Regions from separate parts of the Homo sapiens genome. Here region 1 is linked to region 2. A link means that fine-mapping ties the variant in region 2 to the expression of a gene that starts in the linked region. Tissue or cell type: lung. Region 2 holds a variant in brackets; the other region holds the start of a gene. All regions are shown on one strand. Distances are between the middles of the regions.

Evidence for each region. PIP is the estimated chance that this variant, and not a neighbour inherited with it, causes the effect. A credible set is the group of variants that fine-mapping cannot tell apart.
Region 1: it holds the start of MTCL3, and the variant in region 2 is the best candidate, but not a certain one, in a credible set for the expression of MTCL3 in lung (TOPMed, PIP 0.79).

Annotation. Positions count from the first base shown.
Region 1 is chr6:127,518,030-127,520,719 of GRCh38, forward strand. MTCL3 (MTCL family member 3) reads right to left here and starts at 1,306. Exons shown (of 7, transcript NM_001400265.1): 1 at 550-1,306. It overlaps SOGA3-KIAA0408 (SOGA3-KIAA0408 readthrough), which reads right to left and starts at 1,306. Exons shown (of 13, transcript NR_174482.1): 1 at 550-1,306.
Region 2 is chr6:127,474,868-127,477,557 of GRCh38, forward strand. MTCL3 (MTCL family member 3) reads right to left here. Exons shown (of 7, transcript NM_001400265.1): 6 at 426-1,601. It overlaps SOGA3-KIAA0408 (SOGA3-KIAA0408 readthrough), which reads right to left. Exons shown (of 13, transcript NR_174482.1): 6 at 426-1,601. Among named protein-coding and RNA genes, the nearest start is that of KIAA0408, 17 kb to the left of the region's middle. The variant G/A (reference allele first, on the strand shown) is at 1,362.

The sequences.
Region 1 (2,690 bases), 43 kb after region 2:
AATATTACCGAAGGGTTCCTAATCCACCTCCCTTTCTGTTTCTGGCATCTCCTTCCAACTCACTTTGAAATATAAAGGTGAACAAAGAAGACATCGGGGGAAAATTGCCCACCAACTTGTTTTCTACATCTTCTCTCCCAGTCGCGATACTACTAGAATGTCTGGCCTAGTTTATCATCATGGGTGGCACTAACATGGGCTATCTAACTAACTTATATTGCCAATGCAAACTTATTTTTGTTTTTAATCAGGCAGAATAATTCCAGAGCTGAGAAGCCAATGTTTAAACTCAGCCCTCAGACAGCATTAACCCAGGCGAAAGCTTGTGTTCCAGTAACTGGGCTCCACAATCAAAGGTATCCGGCTGCTGTCACGTGGTTCCCACAAAGTGACAAGATGCTGCATCTCTTCAAGGCTTTCCCGGTGAAAATTATCACCCAACCAACCCCTGCACGGCTTAGACCAACACTTTTAATCTCAAGTTTTATCCGCCTGCTAACCCACCCCATCATTCATCCCCAACCCTTTAGAAATCCAGAACTTGCTCACTTCTCAGCAGAGGCGAGGTTTCCAAGTAGCTGAACAAATCAACAGCACTTTCCTTCTGATATTCCGGGGATCTCAGGGTTTATTATTGTGCCTTTCTGCGCCGAGGAAAGTTCAACTTCATATTATTGTATGCGACTTTCCGGCTGAGCATGACTTTGGGCTCGCTCGCCGCAGTTCCACACCCACTCGATTTCTCCAAACAATGGCGGTAACGTCAAGATTCAGCTGCCCCCAGAGCGGGTGACTTCCCGGCGGTCCGCGGCTGGGCTGGAGCTGCAGCTCTCAGCAGGCTAACACGCGAGGTACCAAGCTGGGCCAGACGCTCCCCAGGAAGTGCAGAGATGTTCATGAGCTGACCTCACCGAACTGGGCAGGAGAGAAGGCGGGATTGCAAGGGACGATAGGGTAGAAGTAACCAAAGAGAGGTTACTTTCAAGAGGAAAGAGAAGAAGGCGGGGAGGGGGACGGGGGACGGGGGTGGGGAGTGGCGGGATAAAGAGACAAAAAGGCCAGAGCCACGCCCGAGATGGAAGATTGGCAGCAGCGCTCAAACTCCTTGCTCTATTCTCTTATCCCGTACTTGGCAGAGGATCCCAAAACCGCTCGAACACGGATGCACTGGTTTCCTGCAAAGCTTTGTCCTGGGTTCGGTCATTCTCCATCAATTATTTACTTGAGCTTCTTTTCCAAGGAGGCGGACTAGAACAGCCTTCCGGGCGTGACTAACATCTCCTGATGCAGCTGGCTGGCGGCTGCTGGGAGTTCTCTTTGTTCACTCACTTTAATTCTCAGTCGAGCTCTACACGCGGTGCTCCCTCCCCACCCCCAGCCCGGGCGGAGTCATCAGATGTCGTTTCCACGAATAGATAATGGTTGCCATGATGGGACCCACCGTCCCACAGACAAAGGGTTCTTGCGAAGCCACGACTAATTTAGTGCAAACCGAAATAAATATCGGCCCACAGAGATCCTTTACAGAACGGTTTGCCTTCAGTACGTTTTCCTGTTTTCTACTGAGTGCCGGTTTCTACCGTGAAAATGAGTAATTGCTGGGATCCATAATCTTTATAGTAGTGCATGCGAACAATAACAGAAACCAGGAAGAATACATTATATCAGCCTAAAAGGGAATTCATTTAAAAAGAGGAGTTCAGAATATACATGTCTTTACAATTTACACTAACCCATACTGTTTCACAGTAATAATATTTTTAAAAATTAAGTGGAATTTTCTCTTTTTCTTTTCAGTTTCTTCTTTCAGTGGTGGGCGGGGGGCATGGGAGCCTCCCTTCTACCTCTAAGAATTCCTTTGTGAGCTTGAGTATGAGAATAAAAGTAAGTACTGCTTTTGAAAGGGCATTTTAAAATTTAATTTGTCTTACATTTATATGGTGATTTTGTAAGTAAAAGGAAGAAGATATCTTGAAATAATAATAGCTTTTTGTGCCAACATGAATTTTGGCTCAAGAGATTCAATTTTCCAAGTGTTGATCTTGCATTAAAAGTGAAATAAAAACAATTTAGGAGTAGTTTGCATAAAAGCAATTATTACAGCAAAATAAAAACATGCTCAAGCTCTGGTTATTCTTATCTTTAGAGACACATAAAACAAATATGATATCACGATAAAATCATTCATGTTCCAAAATAGGTATTAAAAGCCAATTTTGAGCCTGGCACTGTCCAAGGTACTGGGATGCAAAGCTGAATCAAGAAATTGTCCCTGTGCTGGGGACACTCAAGCATACTGGTGAAAACTGAGATAATTTCCTTATTTTCTTTCAAATACCTTTGGGAACAGGAAAAGTGACATCTGTGACATTTATAATAAAAAGCCCACACCTCGACTAGCATACCAAAAATAAAGGAAAAAAAAAAAAGCAAGTGAAAATGTAATCACAAGTTGGTTTGAATTTATATTAGGCAATTTCTTATTATGTACCCAAACTTGAGCTGTAATATCCTCAAGAAATATCAAGATGCACATGTCTCATCCAATCAAAATGGATAAAGTAGATACAAATATTTTTCAGCTCAATCTTTACCAATAAAATATTGATACTGTAAACACAGTCTAAAGACACAGAATATGCATAGTCCTGCTTCTCTAAGAATTTTTACTCTGCTCAGGCATCTATGTT
Region 2 (2,690 bases):
TCAATATGGATCTTGGCTCAAAAACCACATATCAGCAGTTAAATATTCCTATCCAGGACCATCTTGCAGTTCATCTGCTAGCAGAGTAACAGAGAAAAATATTGACCTTCTAAAATAATAACGTGCCTCAAAATCCGTTACTCTTTCCACAACAATTGAGGGTAATGGTGTTCAGTTTTCCTTTTAAACAAAACAGAGGAAGAAATGGTGACTATGTGATGGAGTCACAAAAACCTCAGCCCTGCAGAAGGACAGTGTGGAAGAACTGGTGGGCCGAGGCCGGGGGTTTCAGGCCCCAGCGCGGCCCTGAGCGGGGGCTTCCCTCAAGCGGGGCGCGGCAGTCCGGGCGCCGAGACGCCCCCCAGGGACGCGGCTCCACGGGCCAGCCTGGCCACCGCCGTGGCTCGCAATAGGCAGAACTGTACCTGACTCACGGAAATGGGCTCCTCGGCGCCGCGGTCGTCCGCAGACTTGGGCACCTCGAGGCGGTCGATGAAGGTCTGCAGCTCCTTGCGGAAGGCCTTCATCTGAGCGTTGATGCGGTAGAGCAGCTCGTGCTCCCGGATGCGGCTGCCGTCGTCCTCCTCGTCCATGAGTCCGAACAGGTCCCCGTTGGCCACGTAGATGCGCGCCTCGGTGATGATGGTGCTCGTGTCGGCGATGAGCCGGTCGATGGTCTTGCCCAGGCGCTCGGCCTCCGAGCGGATGTCCTTCATCTGCTGCCGATCGGAGAAGCTCTTGGGCCAGGGCCCGGGCGCCGGGTAGAAGGAGCGAGTGGGCGTGAGGCAGCGGATGTTGCGCACCTCCTCCGAGTCGCTCTCGCCGCCGATGGGCCCTTCGCGCTTGCGGTGCGGAGGCCGCGAGTCGTCGTCGCTCTCCTTCTTGCCCGCGTCGCTCTCGGCGTCGCTGTCGCGGGGGCTGCCGCGGATGCCCAGGTGCGAGGCCAGGTCGTAGCGCTGCATGTTGGACATAAGCACGCGGTTCTCGTACTGCAGCTGCATGACCTTGCCGCTGAGCTCGTTGATCTGCAGGCGCGCCGCCTTCAGCTCCTCCTGCAGGGCCTCGGTCTTGGCGTTGTCGTGGTGCCGCGCGCTGTCGTGGCCGCCGGACTTGTACTTGTACTTGTTGAGCTCCGCCGTGATGCGCTTGTTCTGCTCCTCCAGGTCGGCCACGTTCCTCCGCAGCAGCTCCGTCTCGTCTTCCACCAGCTGCAGGTGCTGCCGCAGCTCCGACAGGGATTCGCTCTGCTCCCTCATGAGCGGGTTGGCCGAGCCGTTGAAGTCATCGCCCCTAAGGTCGTCCAGTTCCGCCTTCAGGCCTCTGTTCTCCACCTCCAGTTCGACGATTTTCCTGCCCAGGAT[G/A]TTGGCTTCTTCCTCCACCAGCCTTAGCCGTAGCTTGAGCTCGGCCTCCCTAGTGCTGGGAGGGCCTCCGGCTTCTCCTTTGGGCAAAGGACTGTCCAGATCCCCATAAAAGGATCTGTACTTCTGGAGCTCGTGTTCAAATCTGTCCTTTTCTTTATCAATCTTGGCCATTTTCTTTCTCATCAAAGCGGCTTCTTCCTTAACAAACTGCAGCTGGCACTTCAGATCTTCATTGTCCTCCTCATTTGGGGGAAAAGAGGGAAAAGGATAGGAGATCATTTTTATGTAAATCAAGGAAACAACCAAAAGAGGACACCTGGATAAATAATTTTTCTTGCAATCCAGATTTAATGACAGAGAGAAACAGAAGCAGATACTGTGTATTTTCTTCAGATCACTTAAATTCTCTGGCAAATTAAAGATTAGAACAATGTTACATCCTGGAAGCAAAAAGGAAAAGGAATATGAAAAGAGAATAACTGTGGCATCACTATTCAGAGATTATTATATGTTGTAACTGCATACAACTGTTTGGTGATCATTTCAGCAGTGTTTCTTTTGTTTCATTATTGCAGTAATAAATATAAAATCTGTTCAACGAGCATGTGGTTCATATGCATTTGCGGCCACTTTTTTGTCACTTACACTGAGCCAAGTGCTGAAAAGTGTTTTACAAATATGAACCTAATTTAATATTCAGAGTAAACTTAGGAGTAGTTATTACAGTTCCTGGTTTAAAGATGTTCAGTAACCGTTCGAAGGTTACACAGCTAATGAATAGCAAAGGACAAAGGTGAAATTTGAATCCAGTTCTGTCTGAAACAAATGCTCAGGCTCTTGATTTCTGTGTCACTTAGGAAATAATCTGCCCCCTGTTTTTATTCAAAGGAAAATTGTTTTAGAGGCCTGTAAGTCAGCAAAGTTTGACATTGGAATGGTCCATCCAAGGAGAAACTGTTAAGTTTTCCATCTAGATCACATTTAAAATAGGTTGTACTCCCATCAGTCTGAAATGGATAAAGCCTGGCAAAAGAATAGTGGAACTATAGAAGTTCTTCTCACACATTCTTACGACAACCTCAGAGCCCAATCATTAACTAAATTGAAAAGTACAAAAGGAGGAATGGAAATCTTTCTCTGAGGGATATTACTGAAGCATGTTATTATGTCTAAGGTCATTTCTCCCAAGGACAATTTCTCAAAATTCTCTTTTAAGTGTGTACTTTGAGCCAATCATATAACTTCTGTGAACTTTGGTTTCTTCATTAAAAAAACAAAAATAAAAATTCTTTCCTTATCCAGTACTCGGTCATCTGTGTTTGAGATGCA